Homo sapiens: one gene and its partners. The protein of the gene in region 2 interacts with the protein of the main gene of each other region in a biochemical or structural test. Each region holds a gene or a part of one and is shown on either strand. Other genes may lie near its edges.

What was found.
Region 1: the proteins of RGS12 (region 2) and PDZRN3 interact in a test that uses a peptide from one of them, tested with the Homo sapiens proteins (one large-scale study listed by IntAct).
Region 3: the proteins of RGS12 (region 2) and HTRA1 interact in a test that uses a peptide from one of them, tested with the Homo sapiens proteins (one large-scale study listed by IntAct).
Region 4: the proteins of RGS12 (region 2) and SLC15A5 interact in a test that uses a peptide from one of them, tested with the Homo sapiens proteins (one large-scale study listed by IntAct).
Region 5: the proteins of RGS12 (region 2) and PALS2 interact in a test that uses a peptide from one of them, tested with the Homo sapiens proteins (one large-scale study listed by IntAct).
Region 6: the proteins of RGS12 (region 2) and HTRA4 interact in a test that uses a peptide from one of them, tested with the Homo sapiens proteins (one large-scale study listed by IntAct).
Region 7: the proteins of RGS12 (region 2) and FRMPD1 interact in a test that uses a peptide from one of them, tested with the Homo sapiens proteins (one large-scale study listed by IntAct).

What each region holds. Positions count from the first base shown.
Region 1 is NC_000003.12:73,614,942-73,618,441, forward strand, and holds part of PDZRN3 (E3 ubiquitin-protein ligase PDZRN3), read right to left. Parts: intron 1-3,500. UniProt on the Homo sapiens protein: E3 ubiquitin-protein ligase. Plays an important role in regulating the surface level of MUSK on myotubes. Mediates the ubiquitination of MUSK, promoting its endocytosis and lysosomal degradation. Might contribute to terminal myogenic differentiation.
Region 2 is NC_000004.12:3,317,021-3,320,520, reverse strand, and holds part of RGS12 (regulator of G-protein signaling 12), read right to left. Parts: coding exon 2,470-3,500; intron 1-2,469. UniProt on the Homo sapiens protein: Regulates G protein-coupled receptor signaling cascades. Inhibits signal transduction by increasing the GTPase activity of G protein alpha subunits, thereby driving them into their inactive GDP-bound form.
Region 3 is NC_000010.11:122,468,053-122,471,552, reverse strand, and holds part of HTRA1 (serine protease HTRA1 precursor), read right to left. Parts: intron 1-3,500. UniProt on the Homo sapiens protein: Serine protease with a variety of targets, including extracellular matrix proteins such as fibronectin. HTRA1-generated fibronectin fragments further induce synovial cells to up-regulate MMP1 and MMP3 production.
Region 4 is NC_000012.12:16,274,886-16,279,157, reverse strand, and holds the start of SLC15A5 (solute carrier family 15 member 5), read left to right. Parts: upstream 1-1,472; coding exon 1,473-1,833; intron 1,834-2,632; exon of another isoform or gene 2,633-2,965; intron 2,966-3,306; exon of another isoform or gene 3,307-4,272. UniProt on the Homo sapiens protein: Proton oligopeptide cotransporter.
Region 5 is NC_000007.14:24,646,452-24,649,951, reverse strand, and holds part of PALS2 (protein PALS2), read right to left. Parts: intron 341-3,500; coding exon 188-340; intron 1-187.
Region 6 is NC_000008.11:38,980,728-38,984,227, forward strand, and holds part of HTRA4 (serine protease HTRA4 precursor), read left to right. Parts: intron 1-925; coding exon 926-1,040; intron 1,041-1,770; coding exon 1,771-1,828; intron 1,829-1,866; coding exon of another isoform or gene 1,867-1,895; exon of another isoform or gene 1,896-2,218; intron 2,219-2,225; coding exon 2,226-2,321; intron 2,322-3,500. UniProt on the Homo sapiens protein: Serine protease.
Region 7 is NC_000009.12:37,702,954-37,706,453, reverse strand, and holds part of FRMPD1 (FERM and PDZ domain-containing protein 1), read right to left. Parts: intron 1-3,500. UniProt on the Homo sapiens protein: Stabilizes membrane-bound GPSM1, and thereby promotes its interaction with GNAI1.

The DNA of each region.
Region 1 (3,500 bases), on a different chromosome or scaffold from region 2:
CTAAGACTGAAGGTAGTCATAAGGACGGTGCTTGAAATTAAGTTGAAATTGGATGAGACACTCAACAAAAGTATTAATAGGATGTTTCTGTCATCAGAAAAAGGTGTAGAGAGAATGAAGGGAGACAAAGGGCATGGGGGAACAGGTAGAAAAAAAAACAAGAGCTTTTCCAGAGTCATAATATCTGCACAATAGTTCACATGGTCCTAAGCCAAACGAGATATTTTTGAAAACTAATATGAGAAGACGTTTCAGTACTTTCCTCGTTTAAAAAAGTCTGCTACTATATTTACACAACCTGAAAAAATCCATAAATGTCTAATTTCTTATTTCCACGAGCTTGATTTCAAATTTTCTCTCTCATTTTTGTCACTGACTCATCTGCTTTTCTGGTGAACAACCACAAGCAATGCTTCACCAAAAATGACACCAACAAACCTTTAAGGTGTTACAGCATCTTAACACTTCCACTTACTTATGGGGTGTGCTACGATCTAAATGTTTATGTGCCCTCAAAATTCATATGTTGAAATCCTAATCCCCAAAGTGATGGTATTAGCAGGTGGGGCCTTTGGGACGTGATTAGGGATTAGTGCCCTTATAAAGGGGCCCAAGAGAGAAACCCTCACCCTTTCTACTATGTGAGCACAACAACAGAAAGACAGCCATCTGTGAACCAGTAAGTGGGTCCTCACCAGACCCTGAATCTGCTAGCACCTTGATCTAGGGGTTCCTAGCCTCCAAAATTACGAGAAATAAATTTCTGTTGTTTATAAGCTATCCAATTTCTGGTATTTTTGTTACAGCAGCCTAAATGCACTAAGACAGAGTGGTTTCTGGTATTTCTGTTACAGCAGCCTAAATGGCCTAAGACAGAGTGGTTTTCAAATGTATACATCCAATTACCAACCAGAAGCATTTTCTTCCCTAAATAAAGAAAAAAGTGCTATAGTTTGGATGACTGTCCCCCCAAATCTCTGTTGATATCTAATTCCAACATTGGAGGTGGGGTCTAATGGGAGGTGTTTGGGTTATGGGGGTGGACACCTCATGAAGAGATTAATGCTGTCCCAGGGTGGTGGTGGGCAGAGAGTGAGCTCTGCTCTATTAGTTCTTGCAAGAGCTGGTTGTTAAAAGAGCCTGGAACTTCTCTCCTCTCTCTCTCCATTGCCTCCTTTCTCTCCATGTAATCTCTGCACATGCAGGCTAGTCTTTGCCTTCTGCCATGATCGGAAGCAGCCTGAGGCCCTCATCAGAAACTGAGCAGACGCCGGTGCCATGTTTCTTGTGCAACCTGCAGGACCATGAGCCAAACAAACCTCTTTCTTTACAAATCACCCAGCCTCAGGTATTTCTTCATGTCAACACAAATAGACTAAGATAGAAAGCAAGGCTACTCATCTAAAAAACCATAAGTGCACTTGCTTACATGAAGGTAGGAGGTTTTTCTGGCCAGTCTCTCCATAGCTTTGTTAATTTGGGTGGGAAAAACATAAACAACTCTGTAACCCATATGTTATTCATAAGCTTTAGCCCTCCACCTTTACATCTTAGCCCAAATGAACTTGAATATCCCTCTTTCACACATTTCCACCACTGCAAAACAGACAGAGGATAGAAATCCAGAGAATGGGTTACTCAGGGGCAGCAGGAGGCTTACAATGAAACCAAATTATTGAGTAACAATCTCTTTTCTTCTAGATAACAACTGCTTTAAATTCCTAAACTTTCTTCAGTGATTTATTTGAAAAAATGTTAAAATCCTACAGGTGTCCAGCACTTAATAGACAGTCAAGAAATGCTTGATAAGACTTACTGTGCCCTTATGTACATCATCTCATTTCATCTTAATAACAACCCTAACAACAGGCATATTATGATCCCATTTTAGAGGTGAGGCAATTAAGGCTTGAAGGTTAGAAGAGCCTCCCAGGGGCCCTCAACAACAGGGCAAAGAGAACACATGAACCCGAATATTGCTGATCCCAGGATATGGATACTAACCACACGCAATACACTAGCTCTATTCAGGGCACCTTGGAGTCAGCCTGTGGACCCAACGCCTGCATCTAACCTTCACCCACGATCTGATGGGACTTCATCCCTCACCTATCCAAACACAGCAAAGACACGGGGCACCTAAAAACAGCTTTTAGCAAAATACTAGGGGTGATCTCCTGCCCAGGACTCTTCTCTGCACACACACTGCTGATGCCAGGGGAAAAGCTCATCACTGCCCTTCCTGGGGATGGGGTGGCTGCAAGGCCTGCAACATACAAAGATTACGCGGTGCCTCTGCTCTTTAAATTCCCTGTAAATATATGGATGGAATGAGTGAGAAAGATGGCTGCTCAGGTCCATCTGGTAGTTATTTTCTTTACAAGAGTAATCATTATGTTATACCACTTCCCTTTCTTATTGTAACAGGCTTATTAGGACACTATTAGTCAAGGGGAGACAGAGGCTAACCCATGGCATAAAAGCTTGGGTGAGCAAAGAATAGTAAGACTTGTGCTTTCAAAGGCATATGTGGGTGTCTGATTGATCCCCTGGGTTAAAGCTGCTCAGTTTTACCTTTCTATCCAATGGTGCCTACCACAGGGCCTGGCACTAGGGGTATGAGAATGTGAGGAGCTAAACTGCAGAATACATTTGGAAGAACTTCACTTCATTCCTACTGTTAACCACTCTTAAAATTACCAGGATAAAAATTAAAGAGCTGTTCTCATATTCCATCCAGGACATCATCTCTTTTTTGTCTAAATCTATTTTTTTTTTTAACAGGGTCTCACTCTGTTGCCCAGGCTGGAGTGCACTGGCACGATCTGGTCTTGGCTCGCAGCAACCTCTGCCTCCAGAGTTCAAGCAATTCTCCTGCCTCAGCCTCCCCAGTAGCTGGGACTACAGGTGTGCACCAGCACACCTGGCTAATTTTTGTATTTTTAGCAGAGACTGGGTTTCACCATGTTGGCCAGACTGATCTCAAACTCCTGACCTCAAGTGATCTTTCCGGCTAGGCCTCCCAAACTGCTGAGATTACAGGCGTGAGCCACCATGCCCAGCCTAAATCTCTTTCACAGCCAGGATCTGTTTTGTTTTGTACTCCATGTGCTCTACACTGGACCTATGTAAATGGGAACATGGTATGGGATGAAAACATTTCATGGACCAGAAGCCAACAGGCAAACTAACATGAGCCAGTGGAGGACACTTGGCAAGTTATTTAACTTTCTGAGCTTCTGTTTTTTCATCTGTAAAATGGAAGGAAAGAGTCATGGGTAAGAGCACCGACCTTGCAGGGTCTTTCTGAGGATGAAATAAAATAATGCATGTACACCTCCAATCCAAACAGTACTTGGCATACATAATAATGGTGCTTTGAAAGCCTGTGTGAGACTTCAGAGAAGGGCACCGCCCCAGGAAAAAATTCTTTTCTTATTTTGGTAACAGTGTGAGCTCGGAGATGGGCCACACTGGGTTCAAATCCCAGCTCTACATTT
Region 2 (3,500 bases):
GACTGTGAGCAAGTCACCTGACAGCCAAACCTCAATCGCCTGGCCTGATGGCCTCAGGATTCCTATCAAGGTAAGGATGCACTCTGCAAAGCAGTGACCGCCACACCGTTATTTCCAACCCTGAGGACATGCTAGCTCCCCTTCTGCTCTGCTCCAGTGTGGGTGGGAACAGCCAGGACCCTCATCTTCACTGCAAAGAAGCCCAAGGCTGGCATCACAACCCCACCTATTCCCCCATGTCACCCGCCCCAAGGAGGAGTCCATTCACTGGTGGGATGGGGACGACAGCATTATCTGTCTCTCAGGTCCGCTGAGGACCATAAGCACCACTGCCAATTATCTAAAATGGCATCATACTCCCCACTGTCCAGGTCACTTTGAATTTCAAGGAGAAAGCAGGTGAAGGTGCCCTGTAATCCACAAAGAACCACATAAACACCAGTGTCAACCTTCACTACACCACAGCAGTGGAGAAAACACAGTTTTAAATATGTACTCAAAGAGATGAGGAATCTCCTGATTCCAAAGAACATTTTCACCACTTTCCAGGGCCCTTCACCTCCCATCCCTGCCCAATACAGGCAGCCCACACTGAGGCCAGCTCCCTGGGAGTGGCCCTGCCCCACCACCTACAGGCTCCACGGAGAAGTGAGGTGAGGCCCAGGGCGGGCAGGAGGGCACCTCCCTGAGAATCCAGACCAGGGCTCAGATCAAGAGACAAGGAAAGACAGCAGCAGCACGTGCAGCTGCAGAACGACTCCTCTAAGGAGGCTGAGGCCAGGCGCGTGTGGCTCATGCCTGTAATCCCAGCACTCTGGGAGGCTGAGGCAGAAGGATCGCTTGAGCTCAGGAATTCAAGACCAGCCTGGGCAAGATGGCAAAATCCCATCTTTACAAAAAATATAAAAATTAGCCAGGCATGGTAGCAAGTGCCTGTAGTCCCAGCTACTCAGTAGTCCCAGCTACTCAGGAGGCTGAGGTGGGAGGATCACTTGAGCCCAGGAGCAGGGGCTGCAGTGAGCTATGATAGAGCCACTGCACTTGAGCCTGGACAACAGAGCCAGACCCTGTCCCCAAAAATAAAGAGGATGTTGAAAATCCATATGATTACAAGTGTTTTAAAAAAAAAAATTCTATGCTTACATACATCAAAATGTTATCAGTGATCATTTTGAGGAGATAAAACGAGAAATCTGTTCTTCCTCCATTTTTTAAATTTTATTTTATTTTAGAGCCAGAGTCTCGCTCTGTCACCCAGGCTAGAGTGCAGTGGCTGCAACACAGCTCACGGCAGTCTTGAACTCCTGGGCTCAAGCGAGCTTCCTGCCTCAGCCTCCAAAGCACTCAGTTACAGGCGTGTGCCACGGCAGCCGGCTCCTTCCTTGCCTTTAAATGCTCTCAGGTGCTACATTTCATCATGGAAAACACTAGGGGAGGGGGAATCAAGTAGAAATATTCATCAAACACGGCCTTTCCTACTCCCCGGCCCTGCCTACCCAGCCAGCAGCCTTAGAGGGTCTTCTTAGGATGGTCTCAGGATGTGAACAAACACTAAAAAGGTGTCTTTACATCGTAAACAGCCGGAGTAGTTTCTCTGAAACAAAGGGAGCTAAGTGCCCACCCCCATCACCTGTCACAAGGGCCCTGGCTCCAAACACAGCACAGCCCCACACGGCAGCGCCGCCTCTGGCTGGAGGAAGTCCTTCCAGAGGGTTCCCTGCACCCAACCGCACAGGCACAGCCCCGCACACTCCCACACTGGCAGCACCGCCTCCTGCTGGACAAAGTCCCTTCCAGAGGGTTCCCAGCTTTGCTCATTTACTCTTTCCTGCTCCAAACTTAGCTCCTAAAGGCAGGGCCCCCAAAGGGATGCTGATGGGTCCAGGTCTTCAAGGCAGCACTACACACCTTGAGGTACCCCTCAGTGAGCAGGCGGCGTGGGGCTCCCCAGGCCCACTGCGGAGTCCAGCTGGTGTTTTACACAACAGGATATTCCCCATGGAGGAAACAGCACGAGGAACCAGCTTTCAGTGCTTCAAGAATATTCTCGCCTCAAGAGGGGTGTGGGACACTGGGATGAAGATTCTGGGGTCAGACCTAAAATGGGCTTCAAGGAGCCACAGGGACAGAGCTAGGGAGGAGCAGGAAGGGGAGGAAGGGCCTTATCCTGAGCTCCAAGACAACAACTTCCCTCTCGCCACCACCAGTCCTGCCCAGATGTCCTGCCCAGGACCAGCCATCAGAGCCAGAACCAGAACCAAGGACTCGAACAGGGCAGGGGGCAAGAGGTCCCAGCAAGACACAGTCCGCAGCCCACAGGCAACGCAGACACCCTGTGATGGCCACAGAGGCCACAGGGCCAGCAGGAGGAAGCCAGGACTGTGCAAGCTGGTGACTGGGAGTCACCTCCCCGTGACTGCTAAGTGAGGAGGCCGGGCCTCCGCGCTGAGTGGCTCCTGGCAGGCTTACCTTTTTATCTTCCTTAGTCTTTCGAACATTTCGATGGGGACCAAAAATGCTTTGCATTCCAAAGGCCTTCCTGGACCACTCCCTCTTCGGGGCATTCAGCGGGGGCTGCGCGAAGCTGCCCTCCACCCTGTAGCGGTCTGCGGGGATCTTGCTCATAGGAGGGGGCAGTGTGCCGCAGTTGATGCTGGACCAGCCATCGGTGGAATCTGTGTAAGAGTCCTGGTCGCTGGTGTGTCCGCACTGCCACTCCCGGAGCACGTGGACCGGGAGCCAGCGCTGGTTGAAACCACAGCCAGCACCCACGGTGCCCCTCTTGGAAGGGGGGACTGAGCTCCTCAAGGAAGCTGGGGGCACCTCCACAGGAGAGGCTGGCCCTAGGTGCTTGTTTAGGTCCCAGAACCTGTCAGTCTGATGAGCGGCCTCAAATGGGGGGCTCCCTTCGGGGTCCGGACAGAAGGGCCCAGTCCAGGGAGCACCCCAGGGCTGGGCACCCCTCCCACCCACACCGTCCCACGCGCTGCCTCCGGGGCCGTGTCTGCTCGAGCTCCCACCCAGGTCCACCACAAGGACCCGGTTGCTCTTCTCCTCCTGGTGGAAGTTCCCAATGCCGCTGTCACTGTTGCTGCTGGTGCTGTTGTTCTGGTGGGCATCGGCGTCCCCGTCCAGAAAGGCGCGGGCCCGCATGCCCTCAATCAGCTCACCCATGTCTCGGTACAGGACAGAGATGAACTGCAGGACGGGGAGGGAGGACGCCGGGAATTCCAGACAGCCATTGGTGTCTGGGTCGGCCGTGCACTCAAACCCAAACCGCCGAGCAATGCCTTGGTGGATCTTGTGATTAAACAAGTCTGGGTCCACCATGAACACGTGGCAGGAAGTCCGCAGGGCGCCCTCCTCCTCCTGGGCCAGGCTCCCGTCGTCATTCGTCTGCATGGTAACCAACCCGAAAAATCGCCGGTCGTCCGGGCACACGGCGCTGAAGGCCAGCTTCTCGGCCGGGTACTCGGCCACGACTCCAGCCTTGTCAGTGC
Region 3 (3,500 bases), on a different chromosome or scaffold from region 2:
GGAAGCCACCAGTGTCTTTACAGGTAAAGTGGTGTCCTTCATCCACAAGATGCATGCAAACAGGGAGTTGATGTGGTCAGAGATGGGTGTGAAAGGTCGGAGCAGAATGATATTTTTCAGAGGACAGAAGGACTATATGTTTGGCCAATGATGAGAATTCCATGGGAACAGACTGTAAATGACAAGTGTCACAGAATCCCACAGACAGAACGATATCCAGGCACATGGTCCTTCCCAGATGCTCTCAAATCCTCACTCTTCCTCCTGTGCGTCTTCTGCTATTATCAGACTTTTCCTACTGGGTTTCATCCAGTGGGGCTAAACCACACTGGGCTATATTTTTCAGAGCCACAAATGCTGGTGGAGAAAGGTCAGACTGGGATCTGAAGAACCTCAGCTCAGGCCATTTCCTGACCAGCAAACATTAAACAGAAAGTCGGCCTGAGAAGAACACAGGATGCAGGCCACCCCAGGAGGAGCGTGTGCTCTCCACGGTGCAGGCAGAGACGGCTGTTTGCTTGGTATAATGATTGGGATGCTGATGTTCTGGACCAACGCATCTGCCCTTGGACATGATGGTAGTGAACCCTGCATTTGGCCTTCCTGAAACAGAGGGTCAAGTTCAGTCACTTTGGCCAAGAGCTATCATGTCTCAGTAGGACAAGAGAACATGCCCAGAGGAGACCCATGCTTTGACACCCAGGAGGCATTTTACTATTTCCATCCTTCTGGCTTCACTATTCTTGGTGTTGGCTCTATCAGGAGTCCTGGAAGAGTCTGGAATTGCCAACTAGAGGTCCTAATCTCTTACAGCTTCAATGCTTTAGGACTCCTAAAGCACTGAAGCTTTAGGAGTTGACAAAGCTCCTTCATATTCCTTGTATCATTGGACTTCAGTGCTTTAGGATTCCTAGCACTGAAGCATTGGGAGTTGATAAAACTCCTTCATATTCCTTATATCACTGGACTTCAATGCTTTAGGATTCCTAGCATTGAAGCTTTAGGAGTTGACAAAGCTCCTTCATATTCCTTATATCATTGGACTTTAATGCTTTAGGATTCCTAGCACTGAAGCATTAGGAATTGACAAAACTCCTTCATATTCCTTATATCTTTGGATTTCAATGCTTTAGGATTCCTAGCACTGAAGCTTTAGGAGTTGACGAAGCTCCTCCATACCCCTTATGCCACTGGACTTTCACAGTATCCTGCTGATGTCTCCTAGGCAGCATCATTGTCCCCCTGTTGTAGATGAGGAAACTGAGGCAGAAGGGAGTCATCCCAAAGGCCCAAATGGGGCTAGGACCCAGGTTTTCTAACTCTAGTGGTTCATCATGGAGACCGCAATTCAGTGTTTCAGAATAGACTCAGGAGACGTCAACACTTCTCTTTCAGGAATTGATAGATCAGTAGGCAGAAAATCAGGAAGGATACAGTTGACCTGAACCGCACTATCAATCCACTAGACCTAAGTGACATTTATAGAACACTCCATTCAACAATGACAGAACACACATTCCTCTCAAGCACACAGGGAACACTCACCAAGACAGACCACATTCTAGACCAGAAAATACACCCTAACAAACGTAATAGAATAGAAATCATACAAAATATATTCTCAGCCCACAATAGAATTAAACTAGAAATTAATAACAGAAAGATAGCTGGAAACACCCACCAAATATTTGATGAATAAACAAAACATTTCTAAATAACACTTGACTTAAAGAAATCTGAAGAATAGTTTGGGAGTGAAACAGACATGGGCTCAAATCCTGGCTCTGCCTCCTTGCACTGGCTGGCCTTGGACAAGTTACAGCTAACCTCTAGGAGCCTCTTCTGTGGCCTCAGCTAGGAAGCAAGGATAATGCCCTGCCTCTCTGGGTGGCTACAAGGTAAGAACAAAGCAAGGCCCATAACACAATGAGCACAGTGCCCAGCTCCCACAGAGCACCCAGTGGCAGTGGCTCTTTGGGTCACTGTTCTGTTTGATGACATTTCCCACTGCCCTAACTGTCCTGGAGAATACAATATTCCTGTATAGCTCACTCTGTGCCACAGAAAAGCAGATGTGACCGCTGAACATTGAGGCTTCCCTCCCCTATGTCTAGCTGGCAAGATTGCCCATCTGCCTGGGCAATCCCAACTGTGTCCATCCGTCTCCATCAAGTGGTGACTGCACTTAGAAAACTGGCACCAAAGAGACAGCTCTTCTTAGTCACAGGATATGAGATGACTCATGTGTTGGAAGATCGGGTAAAATCTTGCCCAAGACTATGTGAGAAGGAATTCTACGGCGAATCTCATCAAACTTTGAGAAAAAAAAACAGCTCATCACAGAGATAGGCCTACCATCTTTATTGCACAACTAATGAAAAAGATGTTCCTGAGGTTTGAAAATATTGCACAAGCCTCTGACTCATTAGGACTGAGGTTGTTCAATTTGGAAATTATCAGAAACTCCAGCCACAACAATATGCCCTCGGAGACTTTTGTGTGCACAAGGAGACATAATTATCCTGTGGCGAGGGACCAGCTGCTGTCACGGGATGCTGCGGAGGATTGTTTTTATGAAACGTGCTTATTCGACAATTTGTCCTGGAATCTAAAATAATAGGGTATCCATGGACTCCCAAATTTGCCTTTTTTTCCTTCCTTAAGATGTGACAAATCTTTCCTTGTGAGGAATTCCCAGTGCATAGAAACCAAACCAAGCATCATTCAAGAAGGTGCCAGGGCTTCTATAAACTGCCATCTCCTGGGTGTCACAAGCTCCAGGGAGAGTTAACGAGATGACATCTGTAAAATCCCAGGCAGTCCAGACATGCAGCTCTTAATTCAAGAGAAGCCACACACTGGTCACATGATATAGGCAACAACTGGGACCTCAAAGGGTGACAGGCAAAGTGACTTTGGATACCTCTGCCCAGAGAACCTTTTCCAACATATTAGATGGCAAATTCCGAGTCAGCTCCCGGACAGAAGTCTCACATCACCCTCCTTCTCTGTGAAGATTTCCTAACCCACCCACCCACCTCATCCCCAGGGAGACAAGAGTGTCCCAGCACTCCTCCCACACAGCTGACTCCTTTGTCAGTGCCTTGAAGATGATGATGATGATGATGATGATGATGATGATGATGATGACAATGACAACACGCTAATATTGCCTGAGTTCTAGCAATGCATCAGGCACAGTGCTTTGCGTTTCATATAAGGAGGTCCTTCCATTCTGCAATGCCCTAAGAGCTACGTATGTATCTGCTATTACTTCTCTTATCTTACTGATGGGGAAACTGAGACTTAGAGATGAAGTCACCCAAGAAACACCACACATCCAGAAAATGGCAATCCGACTTCAGAAGCCCAGCCCTTAAGCTGAGCATCATACTATCTACCACGAGTACCTTGAGATCAGGGGCCACCAGCCCTTACCTCTGAGTCCCCATACCTGATACACTTCTGAGCACACAGTAGGTGTTAAATAAATGCTCTGA
Region 4 (4,272 bases), on a different chromosome or scaffold from region 2:
CACTCAAGATTAAAATTCCACAGGAGAAAAGTAAAAGGACTATCTTAGACCGGGTGTTGACCCACTTGGTTAGAAGAAAAGGCATATGCTGATCAACAGCCCCACCATGATCTCAGGTAATAGATAGGAGTCATTCTCCAAAGGTAGGGTGAACACATGTTAGAGTGTTGCCCTGGACAGTCCCAGTTTATAACTGTTTTTTTTTTTTGGGGAGTAACCATAAATAGCATCACTTTTCACCTGCACAAAACTGTCCAAGTTTGGATCATAAATTGCATGATCAATTTACACAAAGGAAATTTAGGGCATCGTTACCAAAGTAGCAATGCTGAGCAGAGACAAATAGCTACCATTACAATGAGGCTATTAGAAGGGGTCAAAACAGAGTATTTTGCCCCCAGTCTCTCACAACCAAAAGATGATAACCAGAGTCAAAAGTCCCTATTGGTCTTTAGGTTTTGACTACAGCATGAAAATAACATTCCTATACTCAAGTGTTGAATTATTATGACTTTGACCCAATAGTTCCGGTCCCTTTTCTTCCTATGTCCTTGCAGCTAAGCCACTAAATGTTAAGGTGTTCTCTTTCACTGCTGCTTTTTTAGCTTAATTGGCCCTCCTGCTTTCCAAAATAGAATGCTAACACCCATTCACCCAGCTGAAGGGTCAGGGTGATACCAGATCCAATATTCCCCAAAGCCTGTGTAGGCTGGTTGCTGTATCCCTGACTACTGATTAATAATAAAGGAGTTAAATAGCACCTTTTGATTCTGATTTCCTCTGAGAGGCTGTTCTACAAGCATGGGGTCAACTAAAAGGAAGCAGGGTTTCGTTTAATATTTTCTCCTTTCATTAGTGCACTTAAATTACTTTCTTGTAAACTCTGCTTGTTACCTAAATGTACTAGCACTTTTGTTACCTAATTAAGTTTCTTATCAGAATTCCAACCAAAAATAACAAGAAATGTAATAATGATAAGATATCGTGCCCTTCAAAACAGATTTCCTTTTGCGCTTTATCTCTTGGTACTGTTCTGGCTTGTTTAATTAAAGTATCAGAAATTATTAGACTCAAATTATTTCTTGATCTAGTGCTCAAATTCTCCCGAAAACCTGCTTCTTCTGCCTCAATATTTAAACCTTTATCAGTATGAGGCAGATGAGTTTCCACATGTTTGCAACTGGATTCATGTAATTCAATACAATTTTGGAGGACGATCCTAATTTAGCCGCTAAGTAATTAAGCAAACAAATCAGATTTGGGTACACTGAGCTACTGTGAACATTTAAATACTCATGCTCTTGGATCATCAAAAGGAACAACGTCCATGTGCAAAAAACAAACCTTATGAAATTCTAGCATGGAGATGTGAAATTCAAAGCAACGTTCTTATTTTTTTCATCAGAGGGATGGGGCTCAAAATATCACCAAGTTCAAACCACTAACATAAGTTTTGTTCAAGGAGGGTAGTCATGTCTGTTACAGGCTTTACCATAACTGATGAGAAAGTACACTTATATCACAGCATTGAGAAGGAGAAAACTGTAAGACATATTGGCGATTTGTGTTCCTCACACTCTGTGAAAAAAATTCAGGTTGGAATCTGCTTGCTTCTGGTGGAGCTGTGTGAGAGGTTCACGTTCTTTGAAGTCGTCTGCAACATGATCCCCTTTTGCACTATCAAGCTTGGCTATCACAATTGCCAAGCAGCCATCTTAAACTTGTGTTTTATTGGAACTTCAATACTTACCCCTGTGTTTGTCAGATGGCTCACTGATGTCTATTTAGGAAGAAACAAACTGGTGTACATTTGCTTGTTTCTACATTTTCTAGGTGAGTGTCCTCTGCTGACTGGATTGTTTTGTGACTTAATTAAGTAGATTTTTGTTAGAATTTTTAGTTTATATTATTTTCACTCTGCTCTTAGCATAAAATGTGATAAATGAAGTAAGAATGTGGGTTCAATGTATTTCATTCTTTGTACTATTTGAAGAATGCTAGTAAGTCTGTGTGTGTGTGTGTGTGTGTTAGAGAATGTTTTGTGCCTATATCATTGCATTTATATTTTATAATAATTACTCCTTTACATATCTATCTTACTCCTTAGAATGCCCTCCTTTCCCAAAACCTTTTTACCTCAAGCCTAAATTCATGACAAATTCCCTCAGAAATGTGAAATGTATTTGCTTCACAACTAAGATGAAATGTGCTAAAAAAGGTTTTTGAAGTTCATGTAAAATAATTGAGAAATGTTTTTATCCAAAGGTGGTCTTTTAATTAGTCATATAGTAATTAAGATTGCATATGATGGCATGATTTCTATATTTTTAACTATGATTATATGCTTTAGAAATGAGTAAATTAGACACTATAGTGTGCATCTTTACATATATACTAATATATATCTGCAAAAGTTTGGGACCGATTGTGAGAAATGCTGGGAAAATATCAAGATAGTTTAATAAGAAATAGAGAGCAACTTGAAGAACAGACTAGAATTTTAAACTGAAAAGTTCAAGTTATTCTTCTTAAGCAACAAGAAGTCTCTGAAAATATCATGAAAACAACATTTGAGAAATGCTATTCTGCAATACAGGATGGACAACCACAGTGAGGAATTAAATAGAGAGAGATCAGAAAATCTCAGGATGATGGTTTAAGCAATAAAGTGCCAATTCAGGAGAGAACAAGTGAAAAGCTGTAAGGCAACTAAATAAAGGTACAAATGTGATGGGGGTCAAAAATTAGCTCCAAGTTTCTGATCTGAGCAACTTGGGAATATAGCATGCTGTTCACCAATAATGAGAAGTGCAGCTGAAATGAGTATTGGTAGGGGGACAGATGAGAAAGAGATGGATAGATATCAGGTACTCAACATATCACACAATCTCAGGCAGGTGGTAAATTACCATTCAGAGAATCCATTGGAGTTTAAGTCAAACCTGGAAACTTCACAGCTTTAGTTCTGTGGAATAAAAACTAGGTCACTGCATGGCAAATAATCACTCAACATTCAACAAATATTTCTTATTGACTACTCTGTACCAGACATTATTCTGGGTCTGGAAATGCAATAGAGAAGAAAGTCGTCTGTTCCTGCTAAAGTTGACTTTTTGGTGCAGGGAGAGAGAAAATAAAAGAGGAAATAGATATGATGTCATGTGGCAATGAGTTAGGATGGAAAAATAAAGCTGGGTAGGGGGACAGGATGGAATGGATGGTGATGAGGCTGCTACTTGGTACCGAGAAAAAGTTTTCTGATAAGAAGACATTTAAGCAAATCCCAGACTAACTTACTCTGCTTACCTTGGTAACAGGCCACACCAGTAGCATTTGTTGACTTCTTGTTTAACATGGTAATTTCTATCAGTCTAAATTCTGAGGTCAGTCATCAGACAGGATGGAAATCCCAACTTTGGAATCTGGCAAACAAAAGACTTAAGTCAACTCTACATCCATTCATTTTTTTACTAAAAGTTATTTCTTTGTTGCCCTCCACTTACAGCTGCCATCAAATTCCAACTGTCACTAAATTTCAGAGGTTATATATAAGAAAGGTCTTCTGTCTGAATTGCTACTACCCTAGCTGAAAAAATGCAGCTTTCTTCTTTTTAACCATTCCAATGGCCTACTTACTCGGCTGCCAGTTCTCAGTCAGTCTCCAGCTTGTACTCCATTCTACCAACAACACTGACTTCCTGAACAAATAAATCTCTATATTGCTTCTATTATCTAAAAAATGAAATCCAAACTTATTAATTTAGCATACAACAACCTTACCAACCTATTCTAAGTTCACCTCTCTAGACTTGTTGTTCAACACGCAACCCCAACCTTGCTAACTTCTCCTGGCCTCCTTCCCTAGTTTTCTAATCTTGTACATGCTCTTCTCTCTTTCTGAAATTGTCACCTTCCCTTATCTTTCCATCCCTTATCCATGATTGGAAAACTCCTGCTATTCTTTCAAGAACCAAATAGTGTTTGTTGCTAGCTTCTCTGTGTTCAACCACACCCATATAATACTTATACGATTGCATCCATCACTTTATAATATAATTGTCCACCTGCATGGCTGACTTCTCTGATGGACTCAACATTTCCTTCAGCGGACCCCCATCACCTGGCAGGGGGTATGACACATCATGGTGCTTCTACAGAGCTACTAAATGCAGGCATACTGATGATGAGATACACAATTGCACACATCACAGAGGAGACTTTTCTTCATATATGTCATTGTTTTGTCTCTTTACTGCATCATTTTACAACAGA
Region 5 (3,500 bases), on a different chromosome or scaffold from region 2:
ATTTTAGTTAAATTTTGCAGGCTAAACCAAGTTGAGAAAGCATCAGCTGTGTCTTTATACACAGGCCAAACAAGAATACAGTTTTCATAACATTATGAAAAGGAAAAAAAATGAAACAGAGTAGTGACTGAACCACAAATTATGTCATATTTCAGATTTAATAGGGTACTGATTTATCTGTACTCACCAGTGGTTCCCCAGCTCTTTTGTGAATACCAAGAATACGAATGGCATCTACTGGTAATAACTGATTATTGATAGAAGAATTATTCATTTCTGGGCTTGATGGAGGTGAATCATAACACTTTGATGCCACAATATCATGGGCCTCCAACAGTGACTATAAGGAGTCAAAATAGCCTGTGGTTATTTATGATATGTGGATGAAATTTGTTACTAAAAGTACTTTGTTATTTCATTATTCCAATGGAGTACTAAAAATTTCCAAGGCACATGGTATTAAATTCCCAAATATCAGGTTGATCAAATAAATATATAATTTTTAAGAGATATAAAAATATATAGTTTTATTATCATCAAACAATATTATATTCCTTCTTTGAGATATGAAGAGATATTAGTGATGCTTTTTAAAAACTGGCAAGTTCACTGGAAACTGAACCTAGGTTTCCAGTCTGGTGCAATGAAGGTACTGGGTTTTATTGCCACCACTGTCATCATATCATTCAATATTTACCATCAATCCTATTTACTAAAATACCATAAAAATTCAAATTCAAATGACATTTTTACCTAACATTGCTATGTTAGTAATATGATATACTTTTTATATGTAGAAAACGTCTGTTAAAAGATGTCCAACAGAAAATGGATAAATATTAGCATCTTATATCAGTGACAAAAAATTTTATATTACCAATAAAGGTTTTAGTTTATAAAAGGAACATTTTTTGAGCAAAAAAACAAGTCAGTAATAGTCCCGAATATAACGTATTTTTTTTACCTCCTATACTTACTATGTATGTGCTACCAGCATGGGTGGTTTTGATCTAGCTTTCTAGGAATTGCTTTTTTTTTTTCTTTTTTGAGACAGAGTCTCACTCTGTCACCTAGGCTGGAGTGCAGTGGTGTGATCTCGGCTCACTGCAACCCCCACTTCCTGGGTTCAAGTGATTCTCCTGCCTCAGCCTCCCAAGTAGCTGGGACTACAGGCGCATGCCACCATGCCCAGCTAATTTTTTGTATTTTTAGTAGAGACGGGGTTTCACCGTGTTAGCTAGGATGGTCTCGATCTCCTGACCTCATGATCCGCCCACCTCGGCCTCCCAAGGAATTTCTTAATTAATACTAAAATGTTAAATTTTTTTTCATTTCTTATCCTAAAAGAATAATTTTTAGGGCAGGCGCGGTGGCTCATGCCTGTAATACCAGCAGTTTGGGAGGCCGAGGCAGGTGGATCATGTGAGGTCAGGAGTTCAAGACTAGCCTGGCCAACATGGCAACACTCTGTCTCTACTAAAAACACAAAAAATTAGCTGGGCGTGGTGGTGTGTGCCTGTAATCCCAGCTACTCGGGAGGCTGAGGCAGGAGAACTGCTTGAACCCGGGAGGCAGAGGTTGCAGTGAGCCGAGATTGCACCATTGTACTCCAGCCTGGGCAACAAGAGTGAAACTCTGTCTCAAAAAAAAAAAAAAAAAAAAGAATAATTTTTACTGCAACTGTGCATATTCAACATAAAGATAAGTTAACATTCTTGAGGGGCTGGATAGAATTCAAGTTCAAAAACAATAAATCAAAATAGAAAGAAGCAAATATTAACAGGTTCGGGAAAAAAGCAATCAGGATAATTGGTAATTTCTGGTCATTTCATAAAACAATTTGTGAAACACTGGAGAAAAAAATTCAATAAAACAACTCATAAATCCATATGTAAGGATTCTTCCTATAAATGCTGGAAGTTGCTAACCTGCGCTGCTTAGTTTTCCACCCTATATCCTCCTTTGGCAGTTTCATTTACTCCTGTGACTTGAGCCACTACTTATGCATTGACAACTCTTAAATTTCTATCTCTAGTTCAGAAATCTCATGTGCTTCAGATTTTTATAGTAAAAATTTGCCCACAACTCGTCAAAGTCACGGCAATTTGAAAATCAAAAGTAGGGATTGTAAAAGATTAAAACACTGAATAAAAAATCCATAGATCCACAATGCTATTTAAAAAAAGACTGAAAAAACTCATTTGTTACCACTTGAAACTGCAATTTTAAACAGCTCTTCACTTTGAAACTTAGTAAAAGGAAGGATCAAGTACATTCCTGCCTCTTCAGTAGAAATGCACTAAGCAGCCCAGTTGATGAGAAGCTCTACATTATGGAAGAATACTAGCTAATAATGTAGAACAGAAAAACGTCATTTTGCAACCTCTAATGAAAATTCTGATTTACAACCCAAAAGCTAGAATAAGATGAGAAATAACAAAAATTAGAGCTGAGCTGAAGAAAACTGAGACACAAAAAACCTTCCAAAAGATCAATGAGGCTGGGCATGATATGATGGCTCACGCCTGTAATCCCAGCACTTTGGGAGGCCGAGGTGGGCAGATCACCTGAGGTCAGGAGTTCAAGACCAGCCTGGCCAACATAGTGAAACACTGTCTCTACTAAAAATACAAAAATTAGCTGGGTGTCACGGCACGTGACTGCCTAGTCCCAGCTACTTGGGAGGCTGAGGCAGGAGAATTGCTTGAACCTGGGAGGTGGAGGCTGCAGAGAACCGAGATCGTGCCACTGCACTCCAGCCTGGACAACACAGTGACTCCATCTCAAAAAAAAAAAAAAATTAATTAAATTAAATTAAAACAACAACAACAACAACAAAAAATCAGAATCCAGGAGTTGGGTTTTTGAAAAAATTAATAGACAAGCCACTAGCTAGACTAATAAAGAAGAAAAGAGAGGAGAGCCAAATAAACACAATTAGAAATGATGAAGGGAATGTTACTACTGAACCCACAGAAATAAAAACAACCATGAGAAACTACTATGAACACTTCCATGCACACAAACCAGAAAACCTAGAAGAGAGATAAATTCCTAGACATATACAACCTCCGAAGACTGAGCCAGGAATAAATTGATTCCCTGCATAGACCAATAACAACCTCCGAAATTGAATCAGTAATAAATAGTTTATCAACCAAAAAAAGCCTGGGACCTGATGGATTCACAGCTGAATGCTATCAGATGTACAAATAAGAGATGGTACCATTCCTACAGAAAAGCTATTCCAAAAAACTGAGGAGGAACTCCTCCCCAACTAATTCTATGAGGGCAGCCTCATCTTTATATCAAAACCTGGCAGAAACACAACAGAAAAAGAAAACTTTAGGCCAATATCCTTGACAAACATTAATGTCAAAATCCTCAACAAAATACTTGCAAACCAAATCAATCGGCACATCAAAAAGCTAATCCACCATGATCAAGTAGGCTTCATCCCCAGAATGCAAGGTCTGTTCAACATTTGCAAATCAATAAAT
Region 6 (3,500 bases), on a different chromosome or scaffold from region 2:
ACTCCGTCTCAAAAAGAAAAGAAAAAAAAAAAGAAATCTCTTTTTTATCCTTTCCCATTACCTAAAAGGCTAAAGGAAGATGAGGTACATAAAGAGGAAAATATTTTCTACCTCATACCTTTAGCTTAGCAGAGCTTTGTTCCCTAAGGTCAATTTTGCTAATTCTCAGTGCAGTGTTACTGACAATCCCACAGCTTTTTACCTTTTCCATGTTTATTTTTACTTTTAAATAATAAAAAGGCAAATGCTCCTTGTCCTTCTACCTTTGTCAAAATACAAACTGTGGCTCACTTTTAAAGTCAATGTAACTTACTAAAGGAAAAAAATGAGCTTAAGTTTTTTTTTTTTTTTTTTTTTTTTTTTTTTTTTTGAGACGGAGTCTCGCTAGGTCGCCCAGGCCGGAGTGCAGTGGCGCGATCTCGGCTCACTGCAAGCTCCGCCTCCCGGGTTCACGCCATTCTCCTGCCTCAGCCTCCCGAGTAGCTGGGACTACAGGCACCCGCCACCAGGCCCGGCTAATTTTTTATATTTTTAGTAGAGATGGGGTTTCACCATGTTAGCCAGGATGGTCTCGATCTCCTGACCTCGTGATCCGCCCGCCTCGGCCTCCCAAAGTGCTGGGATTACAGGCGTGAGCCACTCTGCCCAGCCATGAGCTCAAGATTTTAAAAAGTCCTCAGCATCCTTGATCCTTTGGCCATGAAAAGAAGGTAACTTCTGCGCATGTGCAGTTACCCTTTGCTGTCCCATCACACTATTTGCCCTATAAAGGAACATCCGTTGCTCTCTTTTGAAGTACAAAGTTCCTCTCGGCCCTGTTTTCTGACCCTAAGTAACTAGCTTCACTCCTTCTTCTGCTTGTTCTGGTCTTGCACTCATCAGTTTGCAAAACTTCATGACTGAATGATGTCCCCTCCCTTGCCAGGATGGTGATGTGATTGGCGTCAATTCATTGAGGGTGACTGATGGAATCTCCTTTGCAATTCCTTCAGATCGAGTTAGGCAGTTCTTGGCAGAATACCATGAGCACCAGATGAAAGGTAAAGCAAGTTGGGATTTTTTTTTTTTTGGTTTCGTCTTGTGCTTTTCAGGAACACTCAATCTTTTGTGGTGACAGCAATTTTTTTGTTTTTGTTTTTGAGACAGAATTTTGCTCGTCATCCAGGTTGGAGTGCAGTGGCGTGATCTTGGTTTACTGCAACCTCTGCCTCCTGGGTTCAAGCGATTCTCCTGCCTCAGCCTTCCGAGTAGCTGGGACTACAGGCACCCACTGCCACGCCCAGCTCATTTTCGTATTTTCAGTAGAGACGGGGTTTCACTATGTTGGCCAGGCTGGTCTTGAACTCCTGACCTCCAGTGATCCGCTTGCCTCGGCCTCCCAAAGTGCTGGGATTACAGGCATGAACCACCATGCCTGGCCCGGAGACAGCCATTTGAATCCTGTAGACTACTGGGTCACTCATTTGTACTCAGCTCCTATAATGGTGATTTGAGCAGCAATATTGGGGGACTAGGCACAAACCAAGCATGAGTTGTACCCAGAAGTATTTGGATTGAGCTAATGTGGAAATGAAACCCAGGGGCTGGAGGTGGGAGGTGGGTGGGAGGAGTGTAAGTGCTAATGACAAAGGTTCTCTGAAGCCTGTGTTTCATCCAGGTAACCTGAAAGGACAGCTGTGATGGCAAAGAGATCCTGGGACATGGGTGTCTTTTAAGCTGCGCTAACAGGAAAGAGGTTTTGTTGTAACACATCATAACTTTCCTTTCCAGGAAAGGCGTTTTCAAATAAGAAATATCTGGGTCTGCAAATGCTGTCCCTCACTGTGCCGTAAGCATGTGTTTGAATATGTCTGGGTTGTTTTTCAGAGGCAAAAACCATAGCTGCACAGTCTTAACAGAAAAGCTGAGCCACTTGGACCACAGCCAGGTACTCTTGTGACCATAGGCCCTATCTGTCTCAGGGTATGTATCTGCCTCTGCCTGCATCAGCACTAACTATACATAGTTTATTTCATTGTGGCTGTATTTTATAATGTCCAGTGGTTCTAGGCTTTGGGATAGAGGCTCAGCCCGAACTGAGAGGAGAATGACTGTGATTAGCTTGATGGAATCTTCCTCGGCCCTTGTGAACCTTGAGCAGAACAGAGTACCTACTAAGAATTTCAGGCTTTTACCAGGGCTCAGGAGACTAATTCATTGTTTCCTAATCTTCTCACTTCTCTTAGCCTTAGTGAAGAATTGAAAATGCATTATCCAGATTTCCCTGATGTGAGTTCTGGGGTTTATGTATGTAAAGTGGTTGAAGGAACAGCTGCTCAAAGGTAAGAGAAGTGAAGGCCTTTGTCATCTACCTTTGCTTTTTCTAAATGTGTGCCATGGTAAAATGCATGGGGGATCCAGACTTGATCTGTCCAATACAGTGGCCACTACTTACATGTAGTATGTACTGAGCACATGAAATGTGGCCAGTGTGACTGAGGAACTGAATTTTGAATTAAAGTAAGTTTAATTTAAATTAAAAAACCCAGGCCAGGTGCAGTGGCTCATGCCTGTAATCCCAGCACTTTGGAAGGCCAGGGTGGGTGGATCACCTGAGGTCAGGAGTTTGAGACCAGCATGGCCAACATACTGAAACCCCGTCTCTACTAAAAATACAAAAATTAGTGGGTGCGCCTGTAATTGCAGTTACTTGGGAGGCTGAGGCAGGAGAATCGCTTGAACATGGGAGGCAGAGGTTGCAGTGAGCTGAGATCACGCCACTGTACTCCAGTCTGGGCGACAGAGCAAGACTCCACCTCAAAAAAAAAAATATTATCATTATATAGTAGTATATTGGGGGGGTGTGTTATTTCAAGTGGATTTCAAAGACATAGGAAACAGAGTGTAAAATAACTATTTTAAAAATATCACGTTAAATGATAATATTTGGATATATTGTATTAAATAAGATATATTATTAAATTAAATTCATCTATTTAAAAATTTTTAAAAATGTGGCTACAAGAAAATTTAAAATTATGTATGTGGCTTGCATTATTGTCTACAGGACAGTGCTGATTCAGACTTGGGTACTTATAAAGGCTTTTTTTGTATTTTGGGAGGGAGGTGGTTCTCTATAGTCTAAGAAGAGCTCATGTTATGAGTTAATAGCATAAGTTTAAATTAATTTGGCTAGGAATTCCCAAATCTACCCTTTCAACATTAATAGTTATTACTTAATAACTATTAAGTGATTAACACCTATTAGGTATTAGTAACTATTAATTATTCATTAATAGTTTTTTTTTCTTTTGAGATGGAGTCTCACTCGTTGCCCAGGCTGCAGTGCAGTGGTGCAATCTTGGCTCACTGCAACCTCCACCTCTCAGGTTCAAGCAATTCTCCTGCCTCAGCCTCCCGAGTAGCTGGGATTACAGGCACCCGCCACCACGCTTGGTTAATTGTTGTATTTTTAGTAGAGACAGGGTTTCACCATGTTGGCCAGGCTGGTCTCGAACTCC
Region 7 (3,500 bases), on a different chromosome or scaffold from region 2:
GCTGTCTTGGGACTCTGCGGTTAAGGTCTATCATTTATTCTCATCCATTTACCAAACACTTTCAGGAACCCTGCCTAATGCAATAGGCCCTCACTTATCTGAAAATCATCTCCCTCTCATTTATAATGATCTCCAGTTTCAACAAGGATCCGGAAATATGAAAAACTGTCTCACAGAGCCAAAATGTAAGTGACAAGCACAAGTCCAAAGTCTCGTGTACACTATCCACCAAGGATCCCCCCCAGGCCCTGACTTAGAGCAAATTTAGGATCTGTATGAATAGATGACCCAGCCCACACAACCTAGAAGCAGAGGGAGTCTTTCTTCTAGGCCAGCATGCAGGTAATACTGAGCTGGAGCAGCAGAGAGACCTAATGAGAGGGAAGAAACAGAAAACTGAAAATTCACACTAAATAAAGCCCATAGCTCTTCCTGATTTTTTTTCAATCTTTTATTTATTTATTTATTTATTTATTTATTTATTTATTTATTTTGAGGGAGGGTTTTACTCTGTCACTCAGGCTAGAGTGCAGTGGCATGATCTCAGCTCACTGGTTCAAGCGGTTCTCATGCCTCAGCCTCTTGAGTAGCTGGGACTACAGGCTCGTGCTACCACACCCGGTTAATTTTTTGTATTTTTAGTAGGGATGGGGTTTCTCCATGTTGTCCAGGCTGGTCTCAATCTTCTGAGCTCAAGTGATCTGCCTCTCAGCCACCCAAAGTGCTGGGATTACAGGCAGGAGCCACCGCACCCAGCCTATTCCTGATTTTGTAAAAAACATTTAGAGCTATAAAAAGGTTTTTCTAAATGCAATAAATAACACTCTATACTAAAAGTCAAAAATCAACATTTGACATTACAGGTGCAGTGCCTCATGCCTGTAATCCCAGCACTTAGGGAAGCTGAGGCTAGCTAATCACTTGAGTCCCAGAGCTCAAGACCAGCCTGGGCAACATGGCAATACCCTGTCTCTATTAAAAATACAAAAAAATAGCAGGACTTGGTGGTGTACACCTGTGGTACCAGCTACTCAAGAGGCTGAGGTTGCAGTGAGCTGAGATCATGCCACTGCTCTCCAGCCTGGGTGACAGAGCGAGACTATCTCAAAAACAAACAAACAAACAATTTGGTGTTTTATTTAATGTAGTAGGATAAATGCTAATAATAGTTATCAGGGAAGGAAAAATGACAAGAGGAATAATGAGCACAGGAATGGAAAAGTACCACCTTATTATTTTTTTTTTGTTTTTTAGCAGATGACATTCACACAGAAAATGATGAACAAAGAAAATTTTTAGTGCCAGAAGATAAGTTTAGTGGAGATGCAGGATAAAAACACAAAACACAGCCACAAAAAGGATCAAACAATTCATTAAAAGCAGATTAGCTGAATGTACATTCGGTGTTAGGCATTCTTAATGAGTGAATGCTAAATATCTAGAAAATGCCAAGAAAGGATTCAAGTAACAAAACTAGTGATGTGTACTAATGTAATTCAGGGGAAGAAGGATTTATTTAAAGAAAATAATATAACTTTCCTTAAAGCAATAAAGGAAAACACAATAATTGGGTTAAAGTTATGCTGGGTTCCTGGATGGAAACACTAAGTATCAAAAAAAAAAAAAGTTCTAAATTAAATAGAGATTTAATGTAATATAAATAAAAAATTCTTCCAGATTAAAAAACAACTTGACAAATTGATGGTAATCACAGCAATAACGACAATAATAATTAATAACATTTATGAATACTAACTATATTTTAGGGAGTGATTTAACATTATATATATATATATATCTCACTCAACCCTCAAACTTTTGAGGTGGGTACAATTATTATTCCTGTTTTATAGGTGAAAAGACTAAATCTTGCTCTGAGAGATTTTAACTTGCTTAAAGTCATACAGCTGGGAAGCAGGTTTCAAATTGGGGCTACTTTCTTCAATAGGCACACTAGCACTGCTTCTAGAGCAGTGCGGTCCAAATGAAATATACACACCGCATACGTAAATTTAAGTTTTCTAATAGCTACATAAAAACAGGAAAAAAATAAGTGAAATAAATTTTAATAACATATATTTTATTTAACTCAATATATCCAAAATAGTATCATTTCAACTCGTAGTTAATACAAAAAATTATTGATGAGAGATTTTGCATTCTTTCATATTAAGTCTTCAAAATCCAGGGTCTATTTTACACTTACAGCGCGTATCAATTTGAACTCTAAATTTCTATCAGAAATACTTAGATTTCAGAAAAGTTACAGTTGAAAAGTAAGCACTCCTTTCAGACAAAGGCAATAATCAAAACTGCATAGTGTGGCTTTCACCAATGAAACTGAATAGAAATTCTAGAAAGTCCTTTAAGTGTCTGGAAGTTTCTTAAAAGACTAAACATGGTGTACAACATGATCCAGCAATTGCACTCCTGGGTATGTACCGGAGAGAAATGAAAATAAATGTCTACACAAAAACTTGCACATGAATATTTATAGCAGCATTTTCTGTAAATGTCCAAAAGTGGAAACAACTCGAATGTCCATCAACTAATGACATGGATAAATAAAATACCGTATTCCAGAACAGAATATTTGGCAATAAAAAGGAATGAAACATGGATGAATCTGGCTAAGTGAAAGCCAGTCACAAATGACCACATATTGTATGATTCCATTAACATGAAATATCTAGAACAGACTAATCTATAGAGACAGAAAGTAGATTAGGGGTTGTCCAAGGCTTCAGGGAGGGAGGTTTGGGAGGTTTGGGAGTCACTGCTAATAGGTATAGGTTTCCTTTGTGGGGGATGAAAACCTTCCAAAATGGACTTGTGACAGTTGCAGATCTGTGAATACACTAAGAACCATTGAATTGTACACTTCAAATGGGGGAATTGTATGGTATGTAAATTATCTATCAATAAAGCAGCTGAAAATAAGTAAATTTAAAAAAATCCTGAAGTGGGGAAAGCTTATAATACAAATATATGAAGAATGGGCATAAATACACATAGTAGATACCCACATTTCACATGCTCAAAGCAAGTGAATTGACAACTCTCACATGAAGAAAGCAAGCTGGAAATTAACACAGAAAATGTACAACCTTATCAAAGAAGCACAACTGAAAGGGCTATGGAGTACTATTATGTGTCATACCAAATATGAATAAAAATAATAAGGCCCAACAGGTACTAGTCCTGAGATTAAAGAATGACAATACAAACTGGCAATTCAATCTCTCTAGGAAATCATTGGTGAACCTGTACCATGAATTTAAATTTTAAATTTGATCTTCTGTTACCATTTTGACCGGTATTCCTTGAACTGATGACCACAAAGGAAAAAATATCATATTATTTATCCTGGACCATGAGTTCCTAGAAGACAAGGGTGGTACCCATTCATCTCCATGTCTCCCATGCCTAGTAAAGTTCTAGAACAGAGTATGAGTTCAATAAACCCTGGCTCTTAAGTATTCAAAAATATCAATCTCAGC